Linked DNA regions of Homo sapiens: all the other regions are linked to region 1. Evidence: fine-mapped expression QTL. A gene starts in region 1. Each other region holds a variant in brackets. All regions are shown on one strand. Distances are between the middles of the regions. Region 1 holds the start of MIDEAS (mitotic deacetylase associated SANT domain protein). Region 2 has its middle 12 kb from the start of DNAL1. Region 3 holds the start of PNMA1 (PNMA family member 1).

Evidence for each region.
Region 2: its variant is fine-mapped to the expression of MIDEAS in whole blood (TOPMed, PIP 0.98).
Region 3: its variant is fine-mapped to the expression of MIDEAS in whole blood (TOPMed, PIP above 0.99).

The regions. Positions count from the first base shown.
Region 1 is chr14:73,754,808-73,765,053 of GRCh38, reverse strand. MIDEAS (mitotic deacetylase associated SANT domain protein) reads left to right here and starts at 4,751. Exons shown (of 13, transcript NM_001367710.1): 1 at 4,751-5,291. MIR4505 (microRNA 4505) reads right to left here and starts at 6,307; the gene lies at 6,235-6,307. RefSeq lists enhancers at 2,483-2,782, 2,384-2,905, 2,906-3,428, 4,344-4,673, 6,734-6,783 and 3 more and silencers at 5,094-5,333, 5,464-5,613, 5,974-6,083, 8,394-8,688.
Region 2 is chr14:73,627,864-73,638,109 of GRCh38, reverse strand. It overlaps a transcript of HEATR4 not described here and the pseudogene NDUFB8P1. Among named protein-coding and RNA genes, the nearest start is that of DNAL1, 12 kb to the left of the region's middle. RefSeq lists an enhancer at 4,733-4,782. The variant A/CA (reference allele first, on the strand shown) is at 5,948.
Region 3 is chr14:73,712,426-73,722,671 of GRCh38, reverse strand. It overlaps PNMA1 (PNMA family member 1), which reads left to right and starts at 8,288. Exons shown (of 1, transcript NM_006029.5): 1 at 8,288-10,246. The coding sequence starts at 9,033. The coding sequence ends at 10,094. MIDEAS (mitotic deacetylase associated SANT domain protein) reads left to right here. Exons shown (of 13, transcript NM_001367710.1): 11 at 1,163-1,375; 12 at 3,171-3,367; 13 at 3,664-7,550. The coding sequence ends at 3,829. RefSeq lists enhancers at 3,247-3,857, 7,823-7,892, 8,833-8,892 and silencers at 8,113-8,392, 8,573-8,742. The variant C/G (reference allele first, on the strand shown) is at 4,486.

The DNA.
Region 1 (10,246 bases):
GCTCTCGGTCTGTGAAGAAAGGGCGTTTCAGTCCTGTGGCTCTGCTGGCCTGCCCTCCCTGGCAGCCACACCTGTTTTGTCCTTCTCCCTACACCCGGCCAGACGTCTCTCCCAGAGTGACAGCAGCAACTGGGGACATGTACAGAGGCTCCTTCTCAGGCCTGACAAAGGCACTCAGAACCTGGCCCAGGCCTGCAGGGCAGGGAGGCTGGGGAGGGGGCAGGTGGGAGGGCCAGGGACACAGACAGCTGTGGGCTGGTGTGGCAAGCATGGCCCTGCCCCAGAACAGGTGAAGTCAATGTGAGCGGAGGAGGAGGGTCCCCTGGGGTTTTTTCCAAGGATAAAAGAGAAGACAGTGCAGAGACATCTCAGCACACAGTGGCTTAACTTCATGACTGGGGTGGTTGTGAGCTCGCGGTTTGCTCAGAAAAGACCTGGCAAAAAGGGCTGAGAAGACACAGCTGGTGGAGGGGTGTTCCTACTCAGGCTGGGAGGACAGCCCTGTGGAAAAGTGTGGTGGAAAGGACACAAAGAACAGGCTGGGAGAGAAGCGTTGGAGGACACCCCTGATGAGACATTGAGTCAATGCCAGAAAAAGTCTCTCTAGGCAGTGCCCATGAGAGGGTTACCTGAGGCCCATGGGGTCTTTTCAGGGAAAAGAACTAGGTGGTTTTTTTTTGTTTTGTTTTGTTTTTTTTTTTTTTTTTTTTTTTTGAGACAGGGTCTCCCTCTGTTGCCCAGGCTAGAGTACAGTGGGGCAATCTGGGCTCACTGCAACCTCCATCACCTGGGTTCAAGCAATTCTCATGTCTCAGCCTCCCGAGTAGCTGGGACTACAGACGTGCGCCATCACACCTGGCTAACTTTTGTATTTTTGGTGGAGACAGGGTTTTACCATGTTAGCCAGGCTGGTCTCGAACTCCTGGACTCAGATGATCCGCCCGCTTTGGCCTCCCAAAGTGCTAGGATTACAGGCGTGAGCCATGACGCTGGGGCTGGAACTAGGTTCTTAAGAAGGGATAACCTAGGTTGGGGAGGAGATACAGGGTAAAACAGTAAAAATAATTAATTGTAGCCTCTTATATGTACATAGCATGATTGAGTTATAAAGCAGTTTTTTGTCCTTTTGATCCTCTCAAGCCCCTGGAAGGTGGGCATCCTTTCGTTGTTCATGCAATGAACACTTAAACAGTGCATCTGTTATGGGCCTAAAAAGTGAGGTTCAGGGAAGGTCAGTGACAGTTTTCCTAAGTCCCTGTGTTTTCTACACCCTTCTTTTTTTTCTGTTGTAATTGTAGGTAATGAGGTCCTGGAGGTTGTACTTTAGTTCTCTAGAGGGAAACGACAATAGGGACACAAGAACACAAGGGACATAGGGACCTGGCTGGCATTGTGGACTTGGGATGCCCTCAACAATATTTGTACTCCCAGTTCCCCAGGCTCTGGTAAAGGTTGGTTGTTTACTTAAACACACCACGTGTGCTGGCCTCATTGGGGGAGGAACAGTGGGAAAAGGACAGCAATGCAGGTATGGAGCCTGGGGAGAAAGACACTTCTCTTTTAAATAGTGATGATGGCTGCAGACTTATTGGAGGAAGGTGGCTGGGAGGTGAGAACCTGGCTTCCTTGGAAGCTTTCCCCCAACTTCGTAACAGCTTTATTGAGATATACTTCACACACCATAAAATTCACCCTTGGAAGATTTTCTTTTTTCTTGAGACAACGTCTCACCCTGTCACCCAGGATGGAGTGCAGTGGCGTGAACACAACTCACTGCAGCCTTGACCTCATGGGCTCAAGCAATCCTCCTACCTCAGCCTCTTGAGTAGCTGGGACCACAGGCATGTGCCACCACACCTGGCTAATTTTTGTATTTTTTTGTAGAGACTGGGTTTTGCCACGTTGCCTAGGCTGGTCTCTAAACTCCTGCGCTCAAGCACTCCTCCTGCCTCAGCCTTCTAAAGTTCTGGGGTTACAGGTGTGAACCACTGTGCCTGGCCTCATCCTTGGAAGATTTTAATGGTCTAGATACTGCTGATGAAACACAGGGCAGTGACAGACCGCTCTGAGTGGAGTCCAGAGAGCTGATGTGGCCCTAGGAAGCCTCTCAAATTTGCCATATTCTACCTTTATTGGGAATCAGAGTTTAGGATTCTGTCTAGGGTGCTTTATTTCCTGGAGTGTTTCTCTCTTGTCACACTCCCTGGTAACTGGAGCTCTGTACTCCTTTTTCGTGCAGTTTGTAAAGAGGGTTGAGGGTGGAGAAAATCCAACTCTGTGGATAAGGTCTCTGGAACACCTCCCCATTTCCCTGAAAGGTCAACCTTCTTGGTTGCCCCAGAGACTTGTAGCAGGGGCTGGAGCTTCTAAAACCAAAACTTTCACTTCACACGTCAGTGATTCTGCACCGTCATATCTGCAGCAAAACTGACCTCCAGGGCTTTCCCGGAAGCGCTGCAGCTTTCTTTACATAGCCTCATCTGCCCGCCTTTTTGAGGTAGACTTCTCCTGCCAAGGGGGGGCTATTTGGTATAGTCTTGAGCCCTCCTCCCCTGCACACATGTGTGCCCCTTTTCTTCTCTCTCCTTTCTTAGGTGGCCTGAATTTGGAAGTTTAGCTGTAGTGAAGGGCGGTGCCGCTCCAAGGTGAGCAAGGCTCCTTCAGGGCCACTGACTTCTCTGTTTCCCCTGCCACCTGCCTCCACTATGTATGCTGCTTCCTGGGCCACTCCTTTGGAGTGGCTTTCACCTGTTCCCTGAAGGCTGGGCCCTGGCTCCATGATGGCAGGCTCTTCTAGCAATGTGCTTCCCAGTCAGGTTTTCTGGTTGGTTGGGAACATCCCTGGGCTGGTCTGCACAAGCTCTTAGGGGCTCACTCTGGGCTGGCCTAAGGCCAACTGCAGGGGCTGGGCTCTCAGGGGAGGTGAGGATGGCCACAGGTCTGCAGAGGAACTTGGCAGCAGTGGGCACTGGAGACCAAATGGCTTTGCTTTTGCTTCCCTCACTTGGATGTGTTGTCAGTGGGAGGGAAGAAATCAGGCAAATGAAAAAAGTAAAAAGGCTCTACCCTGATCCTTTGCCAGGAGCCCTGAGAGTCTGGCCTCTGCTTGGGGGTCTGCAGGCCTGAGCACTGCAGTTCCTCAATTGCTCACTGCCTTCCTCTGGGGGAGGAGCAGAGAGGTCACAGATGCTTGGCTTGCCCTGTGACCTGGTGCAATTCACTTAACCTCTCTGAACCTCAGTACATCCACAGATTGAGAGAGATAAAACTCACATGCAGGGCTCTTCAGGAGACTGTATGGAGAAGTGCTCTGAGAGCTGCCAGGAACAATACTGTCATCACAGATGCTAAATCGGGGAGCCCGGGCTTTTTTTTGTAGAAGGTGGTTTCCCTAGCTCCTCTATTCACTTACTGTAATCACAGAATCATGGATCTTGAACTGGAAGGGATCTCAAGAGGTCCTCTGGTCCAGTCCTGTGGCATAATTACCTGTATTTTGTAGATAAGATTGTTTTAAGTGTTCCTTATTTTGACATATCTATCATAACATGGTGCAAATAAGCCCTTCTCCTCTTGGGGAGGTGTGACTTCCAGGTGTACATGTACGCAGGTGCTCCAGCCAGCAAAGAGGTGGAAGAGGACAGGAAAGCCATGCCCCCTTAGAAGCAAGTGCAGGTTTGGCAGGATTTCTGGGCAGAAGATCCAAGTTTTGCCTGTGTCCTCCACACCCCACCCTGGCCCTGTAGGCCCAGTGAGTGTGTGAGAATCATATTCTGCTGCCCCTCCCTCCTCTTCTCCCTGAGAAAGTGAGGGATGCACCTGGTTCTCAGGTCTGGCCACAGTGTTTTGAAAAGTGGCTGCCAGGACACATGGTATTCTTCGGTGGTTTTTCTTTCAAAGGAAAATCTCCTTGTGACCCATCTCCTTGAAAAACAGCCACCGCCACCACCGCCGCCGCCACCACCACCACTGCACCACCACCAAAAAACTTGGAAGGAAGAATAGGACACACTCCCCTGAACTTTCCCCTGGCCCTAGAGCCCCATTGAATGTGGGGGCCAGAACCAACCTCTTGAGCTGCAAAAATGTTTTCCATCTTCCCACCAGTCAGGCAAGGAGGCATCAAGGCCTGGACCTGAGAATTGATCAGGGGGATATTTAGGGAAGACAGGGGAAAATGTGAGTATGGAGTGAAAAGCCGCTCAACTCTGGCCTGAGTTGCTAGATTTAAATCCAGGAGATTTTCCTCACCTAAGCGATGGAGATGGTGGGTCCTTTCTAGGGACTGAGGCCAGTTTCTCAATAACCTTTACACGCACCAGGACGCTTTTGAGCCAGAAAGTGAAACTCGGAGAGTCTGTTAATAAAATGCCATGGAGAGGATTGTGCATGATTTACCGTATCCAAAACCAGAGAGAGTTTCTTTGTGGAAGAAAGCGACTTGTGCCTTCCCCAGCATCACACACACACTTTCCTGGCAGGCTCAATGGGTTTCCAAACATTTCGTCACCGTCTCCTCCTGACCTTGGTGTGAAAGGAACTAGCAGCGTGGCCCGCCAGCAAAGCCATCGGGGGCGCCAGCCTGGGCGGGGGATGGGGACGGCGACCGACTCGTGAGTGGAGGTGAGGTCTGCTGGAAATCCCCAGCCCCGGCCGCCGCCTGAGGTTTAAGGACGCCTTCCCCGGCCTTATTTGGTCGCAGGAAGTGGGCGGCGCCGGGCCTGCTGGCTGAGGCCGCCCCGAGACAGTTGTGCTGATGAAGTGGTAGAGCTGGTTCCTGCTCGCCGCGGTGCCGCGCGCGCCGGCCGGCCGCTGGGCGCTCCGCGCTCCCAGCCTCGAGTTGTGCAATCCTTTGTAGCACGCCAGAGTCCTCCTCCTCCGCTGTTGCCTCTCGCCCTCTCTCTTTTTTTTTTTTTCAAGCTGTGAGCTCAACCGATGAGTCAGAGCCGTGCAATCCTGACACTGCATCGCAGGACTGGGGGTGACACGGAGGGAGGCAGAGCGCTCGCGAGGCGGACGGCACGGGTGCGGGGCGCGCCGAGGCTCCTGCATCGCAAGCGGGGGGTGACAGCCCGCGCGTCCCGCCCGGGCCCTGCCAGCAAACTTCTCAGCCTCGGGAGGCGCGGGCTGGCGGAAGCCCCGCGAGCGCCGCGGGGAGGCGACGGCGCCTGTTTGTTTTTAAAATCGGGAGTGCGTGCAGGCGGCTGGAGTCCCGGAGGCGACCGAAGGCGGCGACCCGCGGCGGAAGGGGGACAGCCGAGCCCGGAGCCCGGAGCCCGGGCAAGAGCTGGGTAAGTGGGGCTGCCTGGCCGGCGGCCGAGGCCTGCACGCGGCGGGGCCGGCGAGGGGACCCCAGGCGGCGCGCGAGCTGTGGCTGCTCGCACGGCGGGTTGCAGCTCTGCAGGCGCGGCCCGGAGAGGGGGCCGCGGGGGCCGCTGCGCTCGAACTTCTGCGGCCTGGGCGGCGGTGGAGCGGGCGCGTGTGGCCGTGCGGGGGCCGCCTGCAGCCCGCCGCCCCCTCCCCCGCGGTCCGCGCCCTCGGCCCGCAGCTGCGTGTGCAGCGCAGCCCCGCGGTGTTTGTGCAGCTACGCAGCTTGCGCGCGGCCCCCGCCCACCCGGGCGCGGCCCCGCCAGGAAAGCCCTCCCCACCCGGCGGCCCGCGGCGGCTCGGGAATCCGGCTGCTCCTCCTCCGCTGGAGAGAAACGTGGTGTCCGTGGGGACCGGCTGACGTGACGGAGCCCAGGCCCGGAAGGCGCGGCGAGGGGCTAGCCAGCTGAGGGAACTTGGCGCGGGAGCCCCTTCCCCTGCCAGCGTGCACGGGAAAGTGGGCCTGGACGCGGCGTCCACGCCAGGAGTTTGGGGGACAGAGGTGCAGGGGCGTTGGGGAACTGGGGCAAATGCAGTCAGCAGAGGCCTAGGCTGGAGCGCTTCGCGCGGGCGGGCGCACCTCAGACCTGTCATCCTCCCGCGCGCCCCCGCACGCCCGCGCCGCCGCAGCCCTCCCAGCCCGCGCGGTGCCTCGCGGGGAGCTGTGTTCCCTGGTGCCTGGCGGCAGCGCCGAAACCCGGGATTCGGCCGGGCCCTGCATATGGCCGGCTTGGTGGAGCTGGTCACGTCGCCTCCCAAGTCGCACATGCAGGACCATGTGTGTCAGGTTGCCCCCAAGGCCTCTGGGTAAAGGTCTAGGGGAGGAAGGGGAACTTCGTGTGCCCTGGGGCCTTCAGGCTTCAGCCCCAAGGCGGGCCGACATGGAGGAGGTACCTGCCACAGAAAGTGGAGGCCGGGTGTCCGTCCCAGCCCAGCCTCCAGCGAGAGCTGGTGAGAAGATGAAAGGGGAAGTTATATGCCCCATTTAAAACTTTGTTGGTCACAACTACGGTGGCTGCTTCCTGTTTCCACCATCCCACGTGGGACCTGTGTGCCAGCCTGTGGAGCCTCGCGCGGGGGGCGGTGGGATGGGGGAAGAGAGGCTGGCCACGGAGGCCCCGGTGGCCCGCGTATGCAGGGGATCCCTGTTGGCAGCTGCGGCTGGGGGAGGGAGGGGATGTCTGGCTTGCTCCAGCAGGGGGAGCCTGGCCAGGTGATCTGGGATCTTCTTGTTCCTGTAGCTTCAGGGTTGAGACTGAAGGCCTAGTGAAGGTGGACCGAGAAGCCAGTCCTCCCTAGGGGGCCTCAGCTGAGGGGAGAAACCACCTGTCTTGCTCTAGAGCCTCCCACCAAAGGTGTGGCACACGCCCCTTTTGGATCAGAGAAATGCACCCTTTCCTTGGGTGTTAAGTGGCTTCAGAACCCAGGGAAAAGGAGAAGCCTTCCCGGGTTGAGAATTCGTAGGTCTTCCTTTTCCAACTGCTCTGGACAGTGAATAATAGGAGCGTAAACATTCAATTACTGTGATAAACCATCTCGTTGCATGGCCCTGGTCCAGTCTCCACTCTAATTGGATTGGCCTCTGGCTGGTTACTCTGGTCCGTGTAGCTCCCGGGGGGACAAGGGGGTGAAGAACCTGGAGGATGCCCCCAGGTCATACAGCTTGCCAGCTTGCTCTGGAACAGCCTAGCCACTGCCAGTGTGGCCTCTCCAAGTGCCAGCAGAACCCCCACTCCCGTGACTCTGTCAGCTCCTCACCCCGCCCCAGGAAAGAGCGCCCTGGAGTGCCCATGGGGATGAGAATTTAATTTTTACATGTGGGATTTTAAAATAGCCCCAGTGTTTGACCCTGTGTGCTGCTGCTTTCAATAAGTGGAACACAAGAAAAGACAACATGCAGTTGTGGATTCAGCTGAGGGCCTCCTGTGTCTAGAGTCCCCAGAGAAAGGCTGCCCAGGGGTGCCAAGACCTCTGACAGAAGAGGGGAAGGGGAATGGGCCCAGTCCAGGAATCTTCAGGTTGAGAGCCCCTCTCTTGCATTTGGGTCTCCCAGAAGAAAACTTTGCTCATGCTGGGGTGGGGACAGCCACAAAGTGGCTGGGGGTTTCCAGCTTATCCTTCTAATCCTGTTTCAAATGCCACTTCTGAAGGCTGTAGCCATCTTCTGAACACTCATTTCCACCTTATGTAGTTATTTGTGTACATACTGCAGTGTGGTGGTCAAAAACAAAGACTCTGAGTTAGAGTTCCTATACAGTATCTCCTTCATAGAGTTGCTGTGAGGATTCTGTGAGTTAGTATACGTAAAATGCTTAAAGCACATTTCAGTATTTGGTAGCCTCTGCTTGAATGGGTCCCACAATGCTGCTTGGCATCTAGTAAGTGTTTAGTGTTTTTTTTTTTTTTTGGTTGTTAGAGATAGGGTCTTTCTCTGTCGCCCAGGCTGGAGTGCAGTAGTGCGATCTCAGGTCGCTGCAATCTCAGCCTCCTGGGCTCAAGCAATCTTCCCACCTCAGCCTCCCAAGTAGCTGGGACTACGGGTACACATCACCACACCTGGCTAATTTTTCTATTTTTGTAGATATGGGGTTTTGCCATGTTGCCCAGGCTGGTCTTGAACTCTTGGGCTCAAGAAATCCACCCACTTTGGCCTCCCAAAGTGCTGGGATTACAGTCTTGAACTACCTCACCTGGTCTTAGTGCATGTTAGTTGAACAAATTAGTGAAAGATCTCCATCAAAAAAAATGTGTACTTGTCATGTGTTGGGCCCAGTGAGTCCCTGCTCCTGGAACCTCCTCAGATTGCATCACTGGTTTCAAAAATGTCAGTCCACCGTGGGTGATTCTGGGGCTGGTGAACCCAGTTTCCTGGCACTGCCCTGTAGCTGGCCTTGTGGAGTGCATGTGTCGGTCATCCTGACCCTAAGGGGACCTCAGGGTGAAAGAGTTGTGGAGCCATCTCCCTAGGGATCTGCTAGCCTGGGCACTTCCTTTGGTCAGCCCAGATTGGCACCCTTCCTGTGTGTGTGCAGGCGTGCATGCATCAGTACAGAAGCAGCCTGGGGCTCCATTCTTCCCTGACTCACTGCAGGTGGCAGGAAGCAGAGCCAGTGGCCGCATTCTGTTGGAGGAATTGCTTCTTTCTGCACATGAGAACTCTTGACTCTGGGACTGAAAAATTGCATGCTGGGCCGGGGCTAGGGTGGAGTAGGCTGAAATCCCCAATTCTTACTAAGGGACCTGCATTTGCATTCGAAGCAACATTCAGGATACTGTGAGACTATGAGCTCATTTTATGAATCAGAAGCATTACAGCATAACTTTAATGTTGGAAACTGCAATTTGGAATCCAGATCACCCTCCCTCCACCTCAGCGCGCACGCGCGCGCGCACACACACACACACACACACACACACACTGACATGGGCTCTCGCAGTCACACACTTGGGAGCAATAATAGTTGGAGCATCAGTTCAGATTCTGGAGGCCTCCAGCAAAATTCATCCACACCGACTTCTGCTTCCACACTCAGAACGCCGTTCCTGGATGGTGTGTGGACAGTCACTTGGGCAGTGACTGAAGGAAGTCTGATGGGTGCGTGGGAATGAGGCCTGGGCAGACCTGAGTTCATACCCCAGCATCTCCTCTTGCTGTGTGGCTTTGGGCATTGCTTAACTTCTTGGGCCTCAGTTGCCTCACCTGTAAAATGTGGATGATACTAGTACTTCATAGGCTGTGAAGATTAGACAGGATTATGCATGCAGAGTGAATGACACATACTAGGTATTCAACAGATGGCAACTCTCATTTCACCAGTTCCCACTGGATCCAGTGTGTTTGCCTTTGACTCCTATCAAGGAAGAGAAAATGAAGGGTGTCCTGTTTATAGTAGGAAAGCAATCTACCAGGCCACTGAAGCTTGTATAAATGAAGTTTATTGTGCCCTGGGAACAACAGCTTGATCCACTCCACCCTAGACATGTGGCCCAGACCCAGTGTCTGTGTGCCTTTGAGAGGGACTGTGGCCCTGCAGCCGAGGGTTGAGGGCCCAGCTTCCCAGAGATCAGATTGTGCTCTCAGGAACCTACCCGCCCAGGCCCCAGGCTGAGCTGCTCACGTGGGTGGGCAGGAGGAAGGCTGCTTTCTCAGCCAAGGAAAAAAAGTCCCCTGTTTGCTTCACCTGAAGCCTCGCAGTGTGACCTCGCAGGAGGTTTGGGTAGAGCCAAGGGTGGGAGTTTTTCCTTAAAGACTGCTTTGGCTCTTTTACCCATTAAAATTATGTGCAACGGTGAAGGAAACACCAAGAATTATATAAGAAGAAAGTTGCCACTGTCAGAGGAGAGCCGGAGTTGTGCTGGGGTGGGGCTGGGGGTCTCCCTGAGGGCTGCAGTTGCTGGCTGTCATTCTCGGCTGGTGGGGAAGAGCTGGTGGGGAAGAGCCGGGGCTTGGGGCTGAGGCTTCCCTGGCAGCCGCCCTTGCTGTTGCTCTTCCTGGAACACAGCCTCGTGCTGTGGCCAGCCAGGGAAGGTGCTCCCTGTTCCCTCTGCCTTTCTCCCAGCCGCAGGGAGCTTTCGTGGTGAGAGCATTTTTTCCAGGCAGTGCTTCTTCCTTCAGGAGTCCTGGGAAGGAAGGAGAGTGGGGAAAGCACAGGGCAAGGTTTATCCCAGTTAAAGCTTGGATGGAGAGAGTGAGCTACAGTAGGCTTGTAGCTGGCCAGAAGGGGCTTCTCTCTAAAGCCGCTCAGCTTCTCTGGGGAATTGGAATCCAGACAAGAAGGAAAATGGTGAGAGATTTTGATTCCCTGCTTTTCCCAGTAGTTGGGCAGACAGAGGACCCTATCCAACTTACCGTTGCCAGAACTTGCCATTTCTTTAGTAG
Region 2 (10,246 bases), 130 kb after region 1:
TCACGACCACAGCTATATTTGGGAGAAAGCTAGCCATGGAAAATGCCAACTCTGACCCTTTGCCTGAGCCAATCACTGCAATGTTTGGACCTTTGACCTGCAGACTGAAGAAAAAGAAGGCAAACACGGAAAGAGACAAAGGAAAAATGAAGCATAATTGTTAATGGGATCACCAAAGTCCTCAATAAAGGAAAGTCCTTTTTTTTTTTTTTTTTCTTTTGAGACAGAGTTTCGCTCTTGTTGCCCAGGCTGGAGTGCAATGGTGCAATCTGGGCTCACTGCAACGTCTGCCTCCCAGGTTCAAGCAATTTTCCTGCCTCAGCCTCCCAAATAGCTGGGATTACAGGCATGCTCCACCAAGCCGGCTAATTTTGTATTTTTAGTAGAGATGGGGTTTCTCCATGTTAATCAGGCTGATCTTGAACTTCCAACTTCAGATGATCCGCCCACCTCAGCCTCCCAAAGTGCTGGGATTACAGGCGTGAGCCACTGTGCCTGGCCAGAAAGTCTTTTATGAGTTTTTTAGAGTTATCAGACAGCTCTAGTATTTATTTATTAATTCAACAGGTATTTGTTGCAGGTATTTTCCAACCCATTAGTAACACTTCCTTTATTCACTCTCTTCTGGAGTAATTCATTCATTTCTCTCATACCACTCACCTTTGGGTGACTTTGCACAAATTTAACTGCCTCTTCAAAGTAATCTAAGTTTAAGTCTTTCATGGCTGGAGGTAGATCTTCATAGCCAAAAAATGGCAAAGCAGAGTAGCAAAACCTCAACAAGCCAGGAGACTTGCTCAAGATTCACTTAATCCTCCATCACCAAATATATCAATGAGACCAGCAAAAGGACCATCATCTATAACCCAGGAAAGGGAATGAATCTTGGGTTAGATGACAGAACATTTACCTAGCCAACATTTTCTAAATGAAAATTAGATTGTATAATTTATCTTTTTTTAAAAAAACTACCTACTTGCTTTGAAAAGAAAACATCTGTTTTGTGGAAATGGATTTATTATTGTGGTTGAAATAGACATTTATTTGAGCTATTTTGATTCTATAAATGTAAAAATATTTTTATATTTTTTTCCCTGTGAGTTAATCACTGGTAAATGGAAAAAAAGAAAAAGAAAAATCGCACCAAATATATGGGAAGTGTTTTGGTTTGAAGTACAAGTCCTGATAAGTCTAAGCAAATAGTTCTGCAAGCTTTGAGTTATGTAAGAATAAAAATCTCCTTTTTTTTTTCTTTTTTTAGACAGGGTTTCACTCCCATAGCCCAGGCTGGAATGCAGTGGCATAGTCTGGACTCACTGCAACCTCCACACCTCCCGGGCTCAAGCAATTCTTGTGCCCCACTGCACCCTGCTAATTTTTGTAGAGACAAGGTTTCTGCCATGTTGGCCAGGCTGGTCTTGAACTCCTGACCTCAGGCGATCCACCCACCTCAGCCTCCGAAAGTGCTGGGATTACAGGGGTAAGCCACCGTGCTGGCCGGATGTCTGCTTTTGTTTGTTCGTTTGTTTGTTTGAGAGACGGAGTCTTGATCTGTTGCCCAGGCTAAGGTACAGTGGTGCGATCTCAGCTCACTACAACCTCCACCTGCCAGGTTCAAGCGATTCTCCTGCCTCAGCTTCCCAAGTAGCTGGGACTACAGGTGTGTGCCACCATGCCCAGCTAATTTTTGTATTTTTTAGTAGAGACGGGGTTTCACTACACGTTGGCCAGGCTGGTCTCAAACTGCTGACCTCAGGTGATCTGCCCGCCTCGGCCTCTCAAAGTGCTGAGATTACAGGCGTGAGCCACTGCATCCGGCTGGATGTCTGGTTTTTAGCATGAGATTTTTAAAGCCAGGTACAGTGGCTCATGCCTGTAATCCCAGCACTTTGGGAGGCCGAGGTGAGCAGATCATTTGAGGTCGGGAGTTCGAGACCAGCCTGGTCATCATGGTGAAACCCCAAAAACCCATCTCTACTAAAAATACAAAAAACTAGCTGGTTGTGGTGGTGCATGCCTGTGATCCCAGCTAGTCGGGAGGCTGAGGTGGGAGAACCGCTTCAACTTGGGTGACGGAGGTTGCAGTGAGCTGAGATCTCACCACTGCACTCTAGCCTGGGCAACAGAGTGAGACTACGTCTCAAAAAACAAACAAAGAATCAAAAAACAAAAACAAACCCAGACATCCAAATTTAAAGGGCCCTTTGATTTCTCAATAAATTTAAGATATAGTCAGAGTCACCAGAATCCATAATTTGACAGGGATTAAACTGTTTTAAAGGTCTAATGAAGGTGTACTATAAAATGAACTACATGTGTGAAGAGATAGTAAAATGTCAAACTAATATCCTCCCAACGTTGGTCTATTATTTCTCTTTCAACAGTCCTGTTGGGGATGTTTTATTCCTTCACTATTCCAAGAGAAGAATTTATCGGCCAATTGTTTCCTGGTATTTTTCAGATATATTCCTTTGTTATTCCAATTAAAGTAAAAGTGGCTGGGCAGAGTGGTGAGATCCTGTAGTTCCAGCTACTTGGGAGGCTGAGGTGGGAGAATCGCTTCAGCCCTGGAAGGGAGGTTGCAGTGAGCCGTGACAGTGCCACTGCACTCCAGCCAGGGTGACAGAGTGAGACCCTGTCTCAAATAATAATAATAATAATAATAATAATAATAATAATAATAATAATAATAAAGCCAGGCTCAGTTGTGTGTGTCTGTAATCCCAGTACTTTGAGAAGTTGAGGTGGGAGGACTGCTTAAGGCCAGGAGTTCAAGACCAGTCTGGGCAGCATAGCAAGACCCTATCTCTAAAAAAACAAAAAGGTTAAAATGAGGCCATGTACGCCTGTAATCCCAGCACTTTGAGAAGATGAGGTGGAAGGATCACTTGAGCCCAGAAGGTCGAGGCTGCAATAAGCTATCATGATGCCATTGCACTCCAGCCTGGGTGACAGAGCAAGACCTAGTCTCTAAAAAAATAAGAATTTAAAAAAGAAAGATGGCTGGGTGTGGTGGTTCACACCTGTAATCCCAACACTTGGGGAGGCCAAGGTGGGAGGATCGCTGGAGCCCACGAGTTCAAGACCAGGCTGGGCAACGTAGGGAAACCCTGTCTCTACAAAAAATAAAAAAAAAATTTACCTGGGTGGCACATGGCTGCTGTCCCAGCTACTCTACTCTGAAGGCTGAGGTGGGAGGATCGCTTGGGCTCAGGAGGTTGAGACTGCTGTAAGCAAACAAAAGCATTTAATGCTAGAAACTTTGCAGCAATCTTATGCTTAATATAGCAAACACGCAGGGTCTATGCTCCTAAGGAATAGCGTATGCAGCACTAGGACTCTGGCGGGTGAGCAGCTGGCAGAAGAAAGGTGCATAAGCAGATGAAATTTGGATCCTAGCCACCATCTAGGGGAATGAATGTTCCACTTGAAGTCTAGGAGACAAAATAAAGGGATTAAGGAGCTCGCTTTGTTTTCAGATGACAAACCAGCTAGCAAAGCAAGCCAGTCGATTCCCTCACTCTGCTGTCAGGCACTCTGCGGAAAAGGGCCCCCGCACCTGATGGCAGCAGGAAGACCCCCCGCAGGCGGCCGGCTCGCAGGCGCGCGGCGCAGCTCGGGGATGGAGAACCAGCGCTGCACCTGGGCCGAGGCCAGCGCCGGACTCAGCGGCGCCGCCTGCTGCAGCGGCGTTAGGTGGATGGTCACCTCCACTATGAGGGGGTTTTTCAAGGCGGCCCTCCGCATTCGACTGAGGCGTGGATCCTTCGAAGCGGCCGGCATGAGGCTCCACAGGAGCCCCATGGGCCCCACGCCCGTGAAGTCGCCTCCTAGAGCCAGGTCCCCGGCCAGGTCCAGCCCCCCGCCGCTGTCCACCTCGTAGTGGGCAAGGGAGTGGAAGAGGCGGCCTCGGTGGCTGACGCCCGACACCTGCAGGGTCACCGGCTCCCCCGAGCCCAAGCCTTCTGCTTTCATATCCAGGCACTTGTCGGCCAGCCCAGTCTTGGGCGTGACGGTCAGGGTCGCGGCCTTTTGGGAGAAAAAGGACGATGTGGATATCGGCCTCCAGGCCTGGAGGGGGACCCCAGAGGCTCGGAGCGCTGCCCGGACCGCCGGCCACATGGTCCGGGACTGTCGCGGCTTTGACCTCCGCCAAGGTCGAGGCGGCCTGGCACTGGCGGCCGAGGTTCCGCGCTGAAGAGGAGGGAGGAGGGGGGCCCGGCCTGGCAGGTCGTGGCCCTGTGGGGCAAAACCCTGCAGGGCCACGTGATGGGACCTGGGCTGGTCCCTGCGGCGCCACTTAGCAACGGGCTGCAAGAAGAGACGACTTCGGAGGGCCCAGGGTCCTTTGAGCTCCTAGAGGTCCCGTGTGGAACCATCTGGAAGAGGTAGGATCCCCTCGCGAGTTTACCCCGGACGTGTGGCGAATAAAGTTAAGCATTTTTAACGGTAAGTGCCGGCCTCTGGCCGCCTCTGAATTTCCTCACTGGCCACCAGGGGTCAATATTCCCTAAGCCTGATTGAAGGAGGCCAAGTGTGCTAGGGTCCTAACAAATTCCTTTCCTCCGTTTTAAGTAATCTTTGTCCTGGATTAAGAAAGACTATCAAAGTTAAAGTTTAAACGTTTCCGATGAGATACTGAATTGAACTATAAAATAGTAGGGATTGATAATAGAAACTGGTGGAGAGACACTTCCCCAACTTGAATGCCAGCAAAGACCTAAAACGAGCCCAGCGGGGACATAGGGGATGAGCTCAGGAGGGAGCATAAATTTTGCTTTTTCATTCAGAAAGTGGAACTACAGGACAGCCCGCAGTGGCTCACGCCTGTAATCCCAGCACTTTAGGAGGCCGAAGCGGATGGATCACGTGAGGTCAGGAGTTCGAGACCAGCCTGGCCAGAATGGTGAAACCAAATCTCTACTAAAAATTCAAAAATTAGCCAGGCGTGGTGGCAGGCACCTGTAATCCCAGCTACTCGGGAGGCTGAGGCGAGAGAATCGCATGAAACCGGGAGGCGGAGGCTGCAGTGAGCCGATATTGTGCCATTGCACTCCAGCTTGGGGGACAGAATGAGACCCCATCTCAAAAAAAAAAAAAAAGAGAGAGAGAGAGAGAGAAAGCTGAATTACAGATATATACCCTAAGGAAATAAGTTCTATTGTCCTGTGGACTGGAACAAGTGTTAACAATGTATATTTTTTGTATGCAGAAGAAAAGCTTACAAGTATATTACATTTCTTCTTCTTCTTTTTTTTTTTTTTTTGAGACAGGGTCTCACTCTGTCACCCAGGCTGGAGTGCAATGGCGTGATCTTGGCTCACTGCAACCTCCACTTCCCGGGTTCAAGTGATTCTCCTACCTCAGCCTCCCTAGTAGCTGGGATTATAGGCGCAAACCACTGCATCTGGCTAATTTTTGTATTTTTAGTAGAGATGGGGTTTCACCATGTTGGCCAGGCTGGTCTTGAACTCCTGACCTCAGGTGATCCCCCTGCCTTGGCCTCCCAAAGTGCTGGGATTACAGGCATGAGCCACTGCCCCCAGCCAAGTATATTACATTTCTGTTTTTTTAAGAGAGAGAAAAGGCCTTGAACCCACAAAATAAAACCATAGTTTTTCATTCATACATATGAATATTGTATTTTGTATATATATACAAAATGGTTCTGGAATGGTTCTGGAAGGAAACACTTCAAACTGGTAATAGTAACTACCCTTGGGAGAAGACTGAGATTGGGTAATGAGTTAAGAGGACCTTTTATTTTATCTGTATTACTTGAATCTTTCACAGTGAAGAAAGTATTGATATATGTAATTTAAAATTTGTTTTCCGGCTAGGCATGGTGGCTCATGCCTGTAATCCCAGCATTTTGGGAGACAGAGGCAGAAGGATCACTTTGAGGCCAGGAGTTCAAGACCACCCTGGGCAACATAACGAGACCCCC[A/CA]TCTCTACAAATTTCCTTTTCTTTTTTTTTTTTTAAACCACCACAGCACTGAGTTTTATTAGGGATTTCATTAAGGTTAAATTTATAGGAATGAGGGAGTCTTAGTTAGAGGGCGCAAAAGCCCACAAAGCCTCCTGGTATCCATAGTCAACCACTGGCTCAGGTTCTTTGGAGAGATCGCCACCTTGTTCCAGGTACAGATTATTGCAAGGACACTGTTTTGGTCCCACGGGCTGGTAGACAGGGTAAATCACCCCCACCCAGAACATGAACATCATGAAAGCCACAGAGCCGAAGAGCTGTATACACATGATATTCCAAGAAACAGGTGTGGGGGACATAGCTACATGGTTCCTGATATGCATGTCTAGGTGCCAGTGTATCCCCAGTTCAACCTCAGGCCAGGTGGTCTCAGTTATACCACAGATCCCTCTTCTGCTATAAGTGGTCAGGGAGCTTCAGGTAGTCCCCATACCCCATGCCGTCATTCGAATAAGGCTCGTAGTCTTCCACACACATATTTATACTTCTTGGTGGCAGCGACCCGTTCTTCTGGGGTCTTAGGTTAGGGCCCCGGGAGCATGCCCTTGGTAATGTGGGAGGCTGTCTGTGCACCCAGTGGCATCACATTCTGGGATGCCCTTTGCGGCCACTAGACTCCCAGGACCCCAGCCCTGGCCGCCACTACCTTCACCTACTACATTTTTTCAAATAGCTGGCCATGGTGGCTCATGCCTGTTGTCCTAGCTACTCAGGAGGCTGAAGTGGGAGGACCACTTGAGCCCAGGAGTTAGAGGTTGCAGTGAGCTATGGATTGCACCACTGCACCCCAGCCTGGGTGACAGAGCAAGACCTGGTCTCTAAAAATTAAAAAAAAAATTGTTTTCTACTATTCTATCTTAATTAAAACGCATGTGTAAAATGAGGTGAATTAACCCAGGTGAACATATTTTATTAAACTGCTTGTCAAGGAAGAGGGGTATGTATATAAATCCTAAATTTGGGGAGAAACAATCCCATTTTCAAATCTTATCCCATTTATCTATAAATAATTGTCATGTGTCATATTTCTGGATAGAATGTATTTGCCACTGAAAACACATGGCCATTGGACCAAGAGTTTCTGGTTTAGAGCCATCCAACAACCCTGTTTTCTTTGAAAAGTAAGTACCTGCAAGGTACTTTTCTCTGAAAAGCAAGGACTTGTTAAAGTCCTGTCTTTGGTCCTTTCGCCATAAATATTGTTGGGGCTCAGAGAACAATACCCCAAAATGAAGGCCTCAGAAGGGAAAGTTTTTCTTTGCCCTTCTCCTGCCACCCTGCTCTGAGTCCCATTCTTCCCTGAGGCTAGCCATAAAAACTAGAATCCCTTTTCTTCCAGGCAGATCATAGAAACCAGAACTCCTTTTCCCTAAAGCCAGTGATAAAACCTCAAAATATTACTGTAATTTTCCCTCTGCCTTTCTGTGTAAAAATTGGCTGTAAACAAATGATCTGATCTACCTTATTTGACTGTAAGTCGTGATTCCCATTCTAAAGAGGGACCGGCATGCCCCACACCCAGAAGGAAGGAATGAAGCTCAGAGAAGCCAAGAAGAATCTAGACAGACAGGCCTTGCTGGGTTTCCCCACTCAGCTTAGTAGCATTTTATTGGGGGAGCGAACCACTATGGTGGCATGGGGTAAAAGAATTTACCAAGACAGTTGTAGGTAAAGAAAGGCAGATTTATTAGAGAAAGTAGGAAAATACGTTGCGAGAACGTTGCAACAGGCAGGCCAGCAGAAGAGAAGTTGACTGCAAAGAAACAAAGGCTTGCTGGGGACTTTATAGAATAATGTTTATGCTGTCTGTTGAAGAGGGATTTGTGCAGTAGCGATAACACCAAGGTTGCAGTGAGCTAACTTGGAGGGGTCTGGTGATAGTTGGGCGGAGGAAGATTATCAGTTATTTGTGCAGGAGGGCTGTGTCCTGGACCATGAAGAAAGGCAGACTGGTAGCTTATCTGCGTCTTCTTTTTGCTTTCCCCTGCTCCCACCAGCCTGACTCCCTTTGTCTAATTAGGACACCACGTACCCTTTTTGTCCAATCATATTTCTTTTTTTTTTAAATTTTTTTGTTTTTTATTTTTTATTTTTTTTGAGATGGTGTCTTGCTCTGTCGCCCAAGCTGGAATGCGGTGGAGCCAATTTAAAATGATAAGAAATAAGTAATCTGGGGCCGGGTGTGGTGGTTCACGTCTGTAATCCCAGCACTTTGGGAGGCCGAGGAGGGCGGATCTCAAAGTCAGGAGATCCAAACCATCCTGGCTAACACGGTGAAACCCCGTCTCTACTAAAAAAATACAAAAAAATTAGCCGGGCTTGGTGGCGGGTGCCTGTAGTCCCAGCTACTTGGGAGGCTGAGGCAGGAGAATGGCGTGAACCCGGGAGGCAGAGCTTGCAGTGAGCTGAGATTGCACCACTGCACTCCAGCCTGGGCAACAGAGTGAGACTCCATCTCAAAAAAAAAAAAAATCTAAACTTTCCACCTTGGGTTGTGAAGCTACATCATGTGACCCTAACATACCATTAACTTTCTTATAGTCCCCTTCATGCAGCTCTGCACTCTTCCAGTCTCTCCTCAAGCTGGAAGGCACTAGAGCCAAGTGGTCAGTGAAGGCATGGGCTTTGGCCTTGGACTGACTTAGCTCTCCCACTAACCAGGCATGTTTCTTCTCTTGGATCTCCATTTCCTTATCTGAAATAATAATTGTTAATACAGGGATACCTGGGAGATATTGCAGATTTGCTTCCAGACCACTGCAATAAAGCACATATCACAATAAAGTGAGTCACATGAATGTTTGGTTTCCCAGTGCATATAAAAGGTGTATAATATACTGTAGTCTATTAAGTTGCCATAGCATTATGTTTAAAAAAAGTACATACCTTAATGAAAAAACACACCTCTGCTAAATAATGCTAATGATTATCTGAGACTTCAGTGGGTCGTAATCTTTTTGCTGATATTTTTGCCTCCATTTGAAGGCCACAGACTCACTAGGGTGGTGGTTGCAGAAGGTTGGTGTGGCTGTGGCAATTTTTTTTTCTTTCTTTTTTTTTTTTTGGGAACATACTCTCGCTCTTGTTGCTCAGGCTGAAGTGCAGTGGCGTTATCTCGGCTCACTGCAACCTCCACCTCCCAGGTACAGGGAATTCTCCTGCCTCAGCCTCCCAAGTAGGTGGGATTACAGGCGCCCACCACTATGCCCGGGTAACTTTTTTGTATTTTTAGTAGAGACGGGGGTTTCACCATGTTGACCAGGCTGGTCTCAAACTCCTGACCTCCGGTCATCCACCAGCCTCGGCTTCCCAAAATGCTAGGATTACCGGCATGAGCCACTGCTGTGGCAAATTTTTTTTTTTTTTTGAGATGGAGTTTCACTCTTGTTGCCCAGGCTGCAGTGCAATGGCCCGATCTCAGCTCACTGAAACCTCCACCTCCCGGGTTCAAGTGATTCTCCTACCTCAGCCTCCCAAGTAGGTGGGATTACAGGCATGCGCCACCACTCCTGGCTAATTTTGTATTTTTAGTAGAGACAGAGTTTCTCCATGTTGGTCAGGCTGGTCTCAAACTCTTGACCTCAGATGATCCGCCCGCCTCGGCCTCCCAAAGTGCTGGGATTACAGGTGTGAGCCACCACACCCAGAGGCTGTGGCAATTTTTAAAACTAAGACTATGGGCTGGGCACAGTGGCTCATGCCTGTAATCCTAGTATTTTGGGAGGCTGAGATGGGAGGATTGCTTGAGGCTGAGTTCAAGACCAACCTGGCCAACCTAGCAAGATCCCATCTCTATCAATTTTCTTTAAATTAAAAAAAATGACTATGTGATATTGTGAAATATATATTTGGTCGTAATCTTGTTTTGTGACATACAACTCCTAAAAGATTTAGAATCTCCAACGTGTTGTCTTTTGTGTGCTAATGAGTTGATTAATGGCTGGCAGCCCCTAGGTAGCTTCAGTATGGGGGCTGGTCACCAGAAACACCAAGGCAGGATTAAAGAATTGAAAGCCAGACACAGTGGCTCACGCCTGTAATCCCAGCACTTTGGGAGGCCAAGGCGGGCAGATCACTTGAGGTCAGGAGTTCGAGACTAGCCTGGCTAACATAGCAAGACTCCGTCTCTACTAAAAATATAAAAATTAGCCAGGCTTGGTGGCACCCACCTGTAATCCCAGCTACTCAGGAGGCTGAGGCAGGAGAATCACTTGAATCCAGGAGACGGAAGTTGCAGTGAACAACACTGCCCTCCAG
Region 3 (10,246 bases), 42 kb after region 1:
ATAGAGCCTGGGCTGGGTCTGGGACCAGGCCTGAGCTGGGAGCCCGAGCCCGAGCTCTCCAGGAGCCTGCAGAGGGCAGGTTGAGGAAGACAGTGTCCCTGACAGCCGCAAGGAGCCCTGGACCGCTGGGTTCTCCTCTCTATACTGCTGGTGTCATAGTAATAATACATTGTGTTGATACACAGGGTAATTTTCCCACAAGATTCACACCAGCATCATCTTCCTATCTCCGCTTAGCAGACCTCTAACACTGTTTCTCAAACCTCAGTCATTCTTGTATCACCTTTTTGATTTCTGCCATATCTGCATCCTACCATGTGTCGCCATTAGAATTTTTGTCATATTCATATACTACTTGTGCCATTACTTAATATTTTCCTTTAAGTCAACTCATTTTTTACTCAGAAGGGAAGTTTTATATCACAGTGATAAATAGAAAACCAAGGTTGTGTGCTATAAATAGAAGGTACTGGTAAAAATATATGTGAAAACCAGTATTACTGAATTCTAGCTAGATGCTGTGTTACCTGCCAAGGCTGAGACTGAGGGCTGACCTTGCTTTGTTAAAGAGATTATCAAGTCTAGAGAAGTATAAAAGACACATTAGCAGCAACCAGAGACTGAGTCCTTGGCATAATCAGGATTGAAAGAGAATTAAAAGGGAAGGTTACTTAATCCTATGTCCATGTATCCACCTAGCATCATTTTTGGGATTGCAAATCCACGCTTGGTGACATGCTACGGTAAGACAGGGAGTGGTTTGCTGCCCATTTTGCAGGCAGGAAGGTAGTAGAGCTACAGAAAGCATTACAAAGATAGTTTGGAATTGGAACTCAAGGCTTCTGCCTGGCTCACCACATCATTGCCGAGGATGCCTCCTGGTCATCTGTCCAGGAGGATGGGTGGCAATGGGGAGTGACTGGTATGTACCCTCCTTGCCCCTCGTTCTCTCTCAGGTGCTCCCAGGGCTTGAGACTCTTCTGTCCCCATGGCTACTATGCCATGGGGACAGAGTCCAGAGTCCTAGTACAGAAGACTATGCTGGGCCAGCCAGGCGAGCAGGACTAGCTGGGGCTGGTGAACCCCCCGGCCGGGTCAGAATCTGTGCTACAGCAGTGAGACAGAGCTCTAGGCTCACTGCCCTTGTTCTTGTTCCCCATAGACTTCCCAAAAGTTCCCAAGGGTGCCTCTTCCCAGAAGAGAGTCCCCAAGTGAAGAGAGGCTGGAGCCCAAGAGGGAGGTGAAGGAGCCCAGGAAGGAGGGGGAGGAGGAGGTGCCAGAGATCCAAGAGAAGGAGGAGCAGGAAGAGGGGCGAGAGCGCAGCAGGCGGGCAGCGGCAGTCAAAGCCACGCAGACACTACAGGCCAATGAGTCGGTGAGTGTGACCACCATGGGCTGAGCCCAGGGCAAGCAGGGTGGAGCTGGGCCTGGGGGCGTGGGAGGGAGGGTAGAGCAGGACTGTGATCCTCATTATAATCATAATAGCAGGAAATGTGTGAAGTACTTTGTGCTGTTAACTCATTTAATCCTCACTACCCTATGTGGTTAGGTATTACTGTTATTCCCATTTTATAGATGGGGAAATTGTGGCCCAAGATAACACAGCTAGTAGGCAGCCTGAATCCAGAGTCTGCGATTAATTTTTATACTCTACTGCTTCTGTATCTGAGATTCAGAGGGAAAAAGGTTTTGTGAAAACCCAGTAGGTATGTGGGTCACTGAGGGAGCATTGGTGGTTTGCAGACAGGGCTCCCCTAAGAGAGCCAGAGTCCCTGACAAGAATGAGACTGAGCTGAGACCATGGGAATGACAATCATAGGCCCTCAGGCATGATCTCTGCAAAGTGCTTTCATTTCCATTATCTCATTAGTTCCTCACACTGCAGAGTTAACCTCTACTCTGCAGATGGGGGAAAGCAGTTCAGAGATGCTAAGTGACTTGCCCCAGGTCCTTGGACTCCTAGTGCAGTGCTCTGTCCACCATATCACAGGCCAAGAAACAAGACTACTGGCCATAGTTGCTCCTTGCCAGGGAGAGTTCTCCCAGAAAGGGGTAAGGAGGGGAAGGGGTTTATTGGGGAGCTGCTGCTTTTTTAGAGTCTTTTTTTTTAGAAATGTATGTAGTAGGCCGGGCGCAGTGGCTCACACCTGTAATCCCAGCACTTTGGGAGGCCAAGGTGAGTGGATCACCTGAGGTCAGGAGTCGAGACCAGCCTGGCCAACAAGGTGAAACCTCATCTCTATTAAAAATACAAAAACTAGCTGGGCATGGTGGTGCACGCCTGTAATCCCAGCTACTCCAGAGGCTGAGGCAGGAGAATCACTTGAACCCAGGAGGTGGAGGAGGCGGAGGTTGCAGTGAGCCAAGATCATGCCACTGCACTCCAGCCTGGGTGACATAGCAAGACTCCATCTCAAAAAAAAAAAAAAAAAAAAGGAATGTGTGTAGTACACTCATGCTTACAGAGCTCCCATAAACTGTAAACACACGGCTGTGTGCCCACTTCTGAGCCTCGACCACCTGCACCAAGAGCTGTGCTCTGTGTAGCGCTCTACAGAGTTCTGTTGACTTTTGTGAACTTTCCCATGAGGGTGCCACTTCTGATGGCCACCCGGGGCTTCCCCAGCCGAGGTCACCTCTGCTCCCTCTGCTCTGCACTCTGACCCCTGCCCTTGCCCTGTTTGGTGTCCCTGCAGTGCGCTGTCCTGAAGTAGCTACCTGCGCATCTGTCCCTTCCACCAGATCCTCAGCTCTGAGGGCAGGGATGCCTGTGTCAACCTCTTTGTCCCTAGCATCTGGCCCATCACAGGGGCCTGAATCTCATTTATAGAACAGGGCATGAGCGGACTAAATGACAGAAAACATCAACAGGTAGGTGCTTCATTAACCCAGAGACCAAGATCCCCTGTCAGGCGCATCAAGGCCTCTAGCAGCTCGGGCTGCCCCACAGAATTACTCTAGCAGCAACTTTGTAAACGATAGAGCTGACCAGAGATGCAGAGTTGGAGGAGGCAATGGTCGTCATATCCCTGGAAGGACCCAAGTGCATGCTAGGTGACTGTTTGGCAGGAATATATATGACTTTTCAGGCCCCCGGTTCCCTGCGATTTTAGAATTCCAGATCTGCGCTTGCTCAGATCACTCAACTCTCCTTGTTTGATTTTCTTCAGGCCAGTGACATCCTCATCCTCCGGAGCCACGAGTCCAACGCCCCTGGGTCTGCCGGTGGCCAGGCCTCGGAGAAGCCAAGGGAAGGGACAGGGAAGTCACGAAGGGCACTACCTTTTTCAGAGAAGAAGAAAAAAACAGAGACATTCAGTAAGACCCAGAATCAGGAGAACACTTTCCCCTGTAAAAAATGTGGCAGGTAAGGTGGGCAGCGCTGTCCCCGCTGGGACCCCCGCGGGCTGGTGCGCGGAGGGGGCGGGGGTGGGGTGGAGGGGAGGGGGAAGAGGTACAGGCGGTGTCCGCCTCGTTTCTGGTTGGCTCAGCGGGTTTCTAGGGCTGTGACGTCATGGGGCAGCTTTCGGAAAATGACGCGAGCTGGCCGGCCGCGGCTGTGCAGCGTGGGGGTGAAGGTGAAGGCTGGGGCTCCTCGCGCACCCGCGCTGGGGGCCCCCGGGTGGGCTAGGCCGGTTCTGAGCAACCCCCACCCGGCTGCAGGGTGTTTTACAAGGTGAAGAGCCGCAGTGCGCATATGAAGAGCCACGCAGAGCAGGAGAAGAAGGCTGCAGCGCTGAGGCTGAAGGAGAAAGAGGCCGCTGCTGCCGCCGCCGCCGCCCACCAGCAGGCCCTGCGGGAGGAGAGCGGTGCGGGCGACAAGGGCTGAGCGCGGGAGCCAGGCTGGCCCAGTCCTGGGCCTCGGCCCTTCCCGCACCGCCGCCAGCGCCCGCAGACACCCTGGCATCTCAAGAGGGAGTGAGGAGAGGATTGCAGGGACTTTTCCCTGCGAAACAAATGAGACAATGACATAAACGGCTCTTTTATTTATGAAGGCCCTGGGAGCAGCGTTAAGGGCTCCAGGATCCAGCTCTCTTTGCATTTGGTCTGTCGGAAGCTGTCCTCGTGCTTTCCTGGACCGGGAGAGTCCCGGTCCCCTCGGGAGGGACTCCACCGCCTCTCACACTCCGATTTCTGCTGCTCTGCTGCCCCGCAGTCTTTTCCCTTTATTTGCTTCCCCCTCCTCCCCTCGGCCTCCAGGAAGCCACCGTGGCCGGCCAAGCACAAGCTCACCCACTTTGGAGCAGCATTTCTCCTCCCCAGAGGACCTCGAAGGCTGCAACGGCCCTGCCCCAAGCCCCAGAAAAAGAAACTCTTGGAGGGAGTCTGCGGGCTTCTCTGAGAAGGGGCGCAGCCTGACACCTGTGCTGTCCCTGCAGTCTCTAGGCCTGTCTGAGCTGCTCCCGTGACCGTGTCCTGAGTGGCCACCTCCTCCTTGGGAGGGAGGCCGCGGCAGGTACTCTCCCTTTGCTGCTTGCTGGCGGC[C/G]TTGCTAGGGCTAGAAAGTTTTCTCAGCGTTGGGGGAGGGGCTAGCGTTCTTGTCCAAAGCACTCATCCTGCTGCAGGGAAGGGAGCTGTACGGAGGCTGGAAGCTGCAGGGTTAGGCCCGAGAGAGCTTTTGACAAGCCTGGCTCTTCCTGCTTCCCACCTTTTTGGCTGAATACCTTTGGGTCCTGGAGGCTGCCAAGGGCGCTTCGCCTTGAGCAGGTCCCGGAGAGGCTCAGCCTGCCCCTCCTGGGGCCAGCCTCCTTGCCTCTGCTCTGACCTCAGCAGCTACACCTAACCCCACCGCACCCTACCCAGTGTCGATATCCACAACCCAGCCCCCAGGCCTGCACTTTGGAGATTTCTGGATCCTTCCCTGGGAGGGAGAGGTCTCCTAACTCGATTGGACAGGAGCCTTCATTCCTTGACTCGTGTCATTTGGGAGCTATTTATTTATTCTTAGTATTTAATTTTTAACATCCTCTCAGGGACCAGGGGCCTCCTGCTTTTCAGAGGCCCGAGTGCATTTATCCCAAAACGAGGCATCTTGACATCCCCTATCCCCACCCCCTAAATTCCCAAGGCCCTAAGGTCCCTCACCTGGTTGCTCTGGAAGCTCTTGCTGATAGGAATGATAGCAACACTGAAAGAGCGTGGGAAGGTGGAGGGTGTCACCAGACCCACACAGAGCAAGGGAGATTAAGGCAGTTCTTGCTGCCCCTTCTCTGGCTGTGCTTTGCCTGAGGGAAGAGTTGGCAAGAGGCCAGAATTCTAGTTTGGTTTATGGGGCCTGGATTCTGGCTTGAAGAAGCCATATTTGGCATGGGTGAAGTGAAAGGGCCAGGAGGTTCTGGAGGCCCCTTCACTTCCAGTCCCATAGCGGGGCTCAGCTATTTTTCTGATCTTATTCAACTTTAGTTGTGCAAAAGAAATTCTAAGTGAATGCGCGTATGACAGGTCAACGTATTAGGAAGGAGCCAGAAAGTATTCATACTGCTACTCCTTATGAGATAGCCAAGAAGCATCATGTCAGTAACTGGGAGTGGAGAGGGAGTTTTGTTTTGAAACTATGCAGGTATTTTTCAGCATCCATTTGTACATTAGTATGGTTCTACAGGACCCCAGCTGTGGAAGTAACAAATTTCTTCTCCCTCCAGACTCTTGGATGACTACCTAGATCCCCAGCTTACCGGTTAGTTTCCTCCACAGGCTTCCATGAGCTCAGTGTCCCAAGACAGCAAAAATCTGGTATACCCTGTAGAAGCAGGGGGGTAGCAAATTTAGGCTCTCTTCGAAATTACTTGTACAATACGAGTGCCTTCGCAGCTTAGCCCCAAAGTGCTACTTATGTTTCCCAAGGTCTTTTCTATTCAAATCATATTTGGTTTCAGGCCCCTTTATGGGCATACGGTAACAGAAACCTCCATCATTCATATGAGACCCTTTTGTCAGTGGTAACATCTTGTACTTGGAAAAAAAATTTTTTTTTTTTTTTTTTTTTTTTTTTGAGACAGAGTCTCATTCTGTCGCCCAGGCTGGAGTGCAGTGGTGTGATCTTGGCTCACTGCAACCTCCGCCTCTTGGGTTAAAAGAATTCTCCTGCCTCAGCCTCCTGAGTAGCTGGGATTATAGGCACACACCACCACACCCAGCTAATCTTTTTGTATTTTTTTTTTTAGTAGAGACAGGGTTTCGCCATGTCGGCCAGGCTGGTCTTGAACTCCTGACCTCAGGTGGTCCACCCGCCTCGGCCTCCCAAAGTGCTGGCATTACAGGCGTGAACCACCGTGCCTGGCCGGAAGTCTTTAAAAAATAAAGTGATTCTACTCTTCTAAGCTTACAGAGACCAGACCAGGTGAATGTAACTGGGGAAAATCAAGATGGTACCTCTCTGCATTATCCCGCCAGACACTGTATTTTATGCATTCATGTCTAGGATACAGTGTGAAAATTAAAAAGTTTAGAGGGCAGATGCAATTGTGGCAAGTGACCTGCCAATAAAGCAGGTGCAGCTATAGAAGCTGGCATAGGTATATCCTTAATGGTGCTTTCTCCCTGGGCTTGTCTTTTTGTTGTTTTTTTCCCCCTATATTCAGAGCTCCTTGAGAAGTGATAAACACCTCCAGCTTTCTAACATCCTCCCCACACCATCTCACCATATCCATCTCCCAGCATCCATCTGCATTCAGCTAAGGGCGGGAAACTGACCTAGTGCCTGTGTTGCAGACCATTTCTGAGGTCTCCACCATCCAAGGAGGCACAGCCGTCATTACTGTCCTCCATGCCTTCAGCAGCCCCCCTCACAGCTAAGGTACATACCACCCCTTCTGCCGCGCCTCCACCCCTGGCACCAAGGTCTTCTGCTGCTTATGTCTAAAGGGATCACCTATATTTAACTGCCTCAGTGACCTAACCTCTTTCTTCTCATGTGCCAGATGTTAAGATGAAGGAGGAATACAACACATACTCAAGCCTCAGCCTGTTTAGTTGTTTTCACTGGGGCTCGCTTTTCTGGGACGGTATTTATTATCAGACTGGCAAGCCTAACTCCATAGGTTTACAGGAAGTAGGGATATTTTTATAAAACAATTGTGTCCTCCCCACATTTTGCTATGTTAATATTTGCTTCTAACAATTTGCAGCTGTTTCACTTTTTCCTCATTTGTCTCTAAGTTGAAGGCTTTGTTGGAGGGGACAGAGCACAGGAACAGCCTTGACAGTCTGTAATTATTGTACAGATATTTTAATAGCATATAAATAAGTATATTCCTTTTATTTTGAAACAAAAATGATCAGACACTGCCTTTTGTGTGTTTGCTGCCTGTGGCATCCTTTTTTAAAAAGACTGTTACATATTAAAATAGTGTACATATATAAATATTACCTCTTTTGCTGTACAGTTGTGATAGAGACTGAAGATTTTATTTTTTGTGTGCTTTTTATAAGAAAAAAATTAATACACTAAAGAATCTTGCTGATGTGATTGTAATGTACCTATGTAACTTATTTACTTTTGAATGTTCTTCTGTATCTTTAAACCTTTTATTAAATAAGGTTTTAAAAATTCAGAGTTGAATGCTTTGTTCTCTTGGGATTTTCACCATCTGGGGTTGATGTAAGTGCGCCTTGTCTTGCTTGCAGGGAGATTACTCGACATTTTTGAACCATAAGGATTCTCTTTTAGCAGCCTATTGTCAATGATGCCAGCCAGGAAAAGGAAAATAATACACTAATGTTTGCCTGGCTAAAAGATGACTCAGTAGACACAGACAGATTTTTACAAAATTTTAGACAAGAAAAAGTCTAAACTCAGTGTCTCACACAAATACACAGAAATGGCGCACTCCGACATTTTGGCTTCATTGGGATGAAATATGCAGGGTGCACAGTGTGGTCAGGGGCAACGGGAAGCCAGGGTTCTGAGGAGAGTATTTTCACGTGCAGGGTGGACTGGCTGAGCAACCCGAGTAGACAAGTCCACCATGAGGGATGCATTTCCAACAATATCATCTTAAATCCACTCCAGGATTGGGTTATTATTTTTAAAACACGGTGCTTAGTAGTAGTTGTTTACTGTTAAAATGCTAAATTATGAAAAAGGAAATGCGCCATCAGAGAAACAAATGCCCGAGCCCCTCGCTGGCTCCACGGCAACCGCTCGACCCCCGCGAGCCGCCGGAGCAGGCGTGCCTCGCGCCGGCTGGGACACCGTTGCCATGGAGACGCCCGAGCAGCTCCGCCGCGGGGGCGGGACGGGGCGGGGCGGGGCGGACGCCGCTCGCCGGCTGGCCCCATCCTCCACTGCAGCAGTAACGTCGCGGCGGGTTGCGGGTAGGACTGGACGCCAGAGCAGCCGCGCAGCGCCTGAACCGCTGCGGGCCGCCGCGGCCGCCCCTTCCCACCCTCGCCTCTGCTGTCTCCAGCCTCGCTTCTCCGACTTTCCTGCTCCTCTGCTGCCTTCGTTTCTGGTCCTCGGCCGTCCTCGCCGCCCGCCCAGAGGAGTCCCCGCGCCCGCCAAGAAGCCGCTTTCCGCTGGCCCGCAGCCGCCGCGACTTCGGCACAGTTTCTCCCTCTGGCTAGTCTCCCAAACGGCCGCTCCTCGCCCGCGGGAAGACCAGGCTGCGACCGCGAACGCCCGATCCTCTCCAGGAGCCGCAGCGAGCGCCCGGCGGCCACGCCCCGCGACCACACCCCGGCGGCTCTCGGCCCAGCGCGCCTGCCTTCGCCGCCCGCCGTCGCTCCTCGCCCGCTGCACGACGACGCGACGCCCCTGCTGCAGGCGGCGGACCCGACCGGACCCAGACCCAGACGCAAGATGGCGACGGCCGCGTGACTGCCTCAGCGTCCCCGAGCTCGGCTCCGAGTGCACCTACGGACTGACTGTGGGGGCAGAGAAGGGCGAGATCAGGACTCTGTCTTTGTTAATCGTGACTGCATGAAGGTCGCCTCCCTCGGGCCTACTTGGTGGGAGTGTCTGGTATTGTTCTAAGGCCAGGAGCACGGTGAGCCACAGTCTGTTGGTAGAATTTGGCGTCTTGATAGTTGAGAAAATGGCGATGACACTGTTGGAAGACTGGTGCCGGGGGATGGATGTGAACTCCCAGAGAGCTCTGTTAGTCTGGGGCATCCCAGTGAACTGTGATGAGGCTGAAATCGAAGAGACCCTCCAGGCTGCGATGCCCCAGGTCTCCTACCGAATGCTTGGGAGAATGTTCTGGAGGGAAGAAAATGCGAAAGCAGCCTTATTAGAGCTCACTGGCGCTGTAGATTACGCCGCGATCCCCAGGGAGATGCCGGGCAAAGGAGGGGTCTGGAAAGTGTTATTTAAGCCCCCAACTTCTGATGCTGAATTTTTAGAAAGATTGCACCTCTTCCTAGCTAGAGAGGGGTGGACCGTGCAAGATGTTGCCCGTGTCCTTGGGTTTCAGAACCCTACTCCGACCCCGGGCCCAGAGATGCCAGCAGAGATGCTAAACTATATTTTGGATAATGTTATTCAGCCTCTTGTTGAGTCCATATGGTACAAGAGGCTGACACTTTTCTCGGGGAGGGACATCCCAGGGCCTGGAGAGGAAACCTTTGATCCCTGGCTGGAGCACACTAATGAGGTCCTAGAGGAGTGGCAGGTGTCCGATGTAGAAAAGAGGCGGCGGTTGATGGAGAGTCTTAGAGGCCCCGCCGCTGATGTTATTCGCATCCTTAAGTCCAACAACCCCGCGATAACCACTGCCGAATGCCTGAAGGCGCTTGAGCAGGTGTTTGGGAGCGTTGAGAGCTCTAGGGATGCCCAGATCAAATTTCTGAACACTTATCAGAACCCGGGAGAAAAATTGTCTGCTTATGTCATTCGTCTGGAGCCTCTGCTACAGAAGGTGGTAGAGAAGGGGGCCATTGATAAAGATAATGTGAACCAGGCCCGCCTAGAGCAGGTCATTGCCGGGGCCAACCACAGCGGGGCCATCCGAAGGCAGCTGTGGCTTACCGGGGCTGGGGAAGGGCCAGCCCCAAACCTCTTTCAGTTGCTGGTGCAGATCCGTGAGGAGGAAGCCAAGGAGGAGGAGGAGGAGGCTGAGGCCACCCTTCTGCAGTTAGGCCTGGAAGGGCACTTCTGAGTGCCAGGAAAGGCAGCTTTAGTGCAGACCTAGATCACAGCTACTTTTCTTGTCCCTGTGGGGTCTTACAGATGTGTCTCTGAGTAGTAAAGGCTTAGCCTTGTTCTGTTTTGTTGTTTTTTGGAGGGGAAGGTTAGTCAGGCCTGAGTATT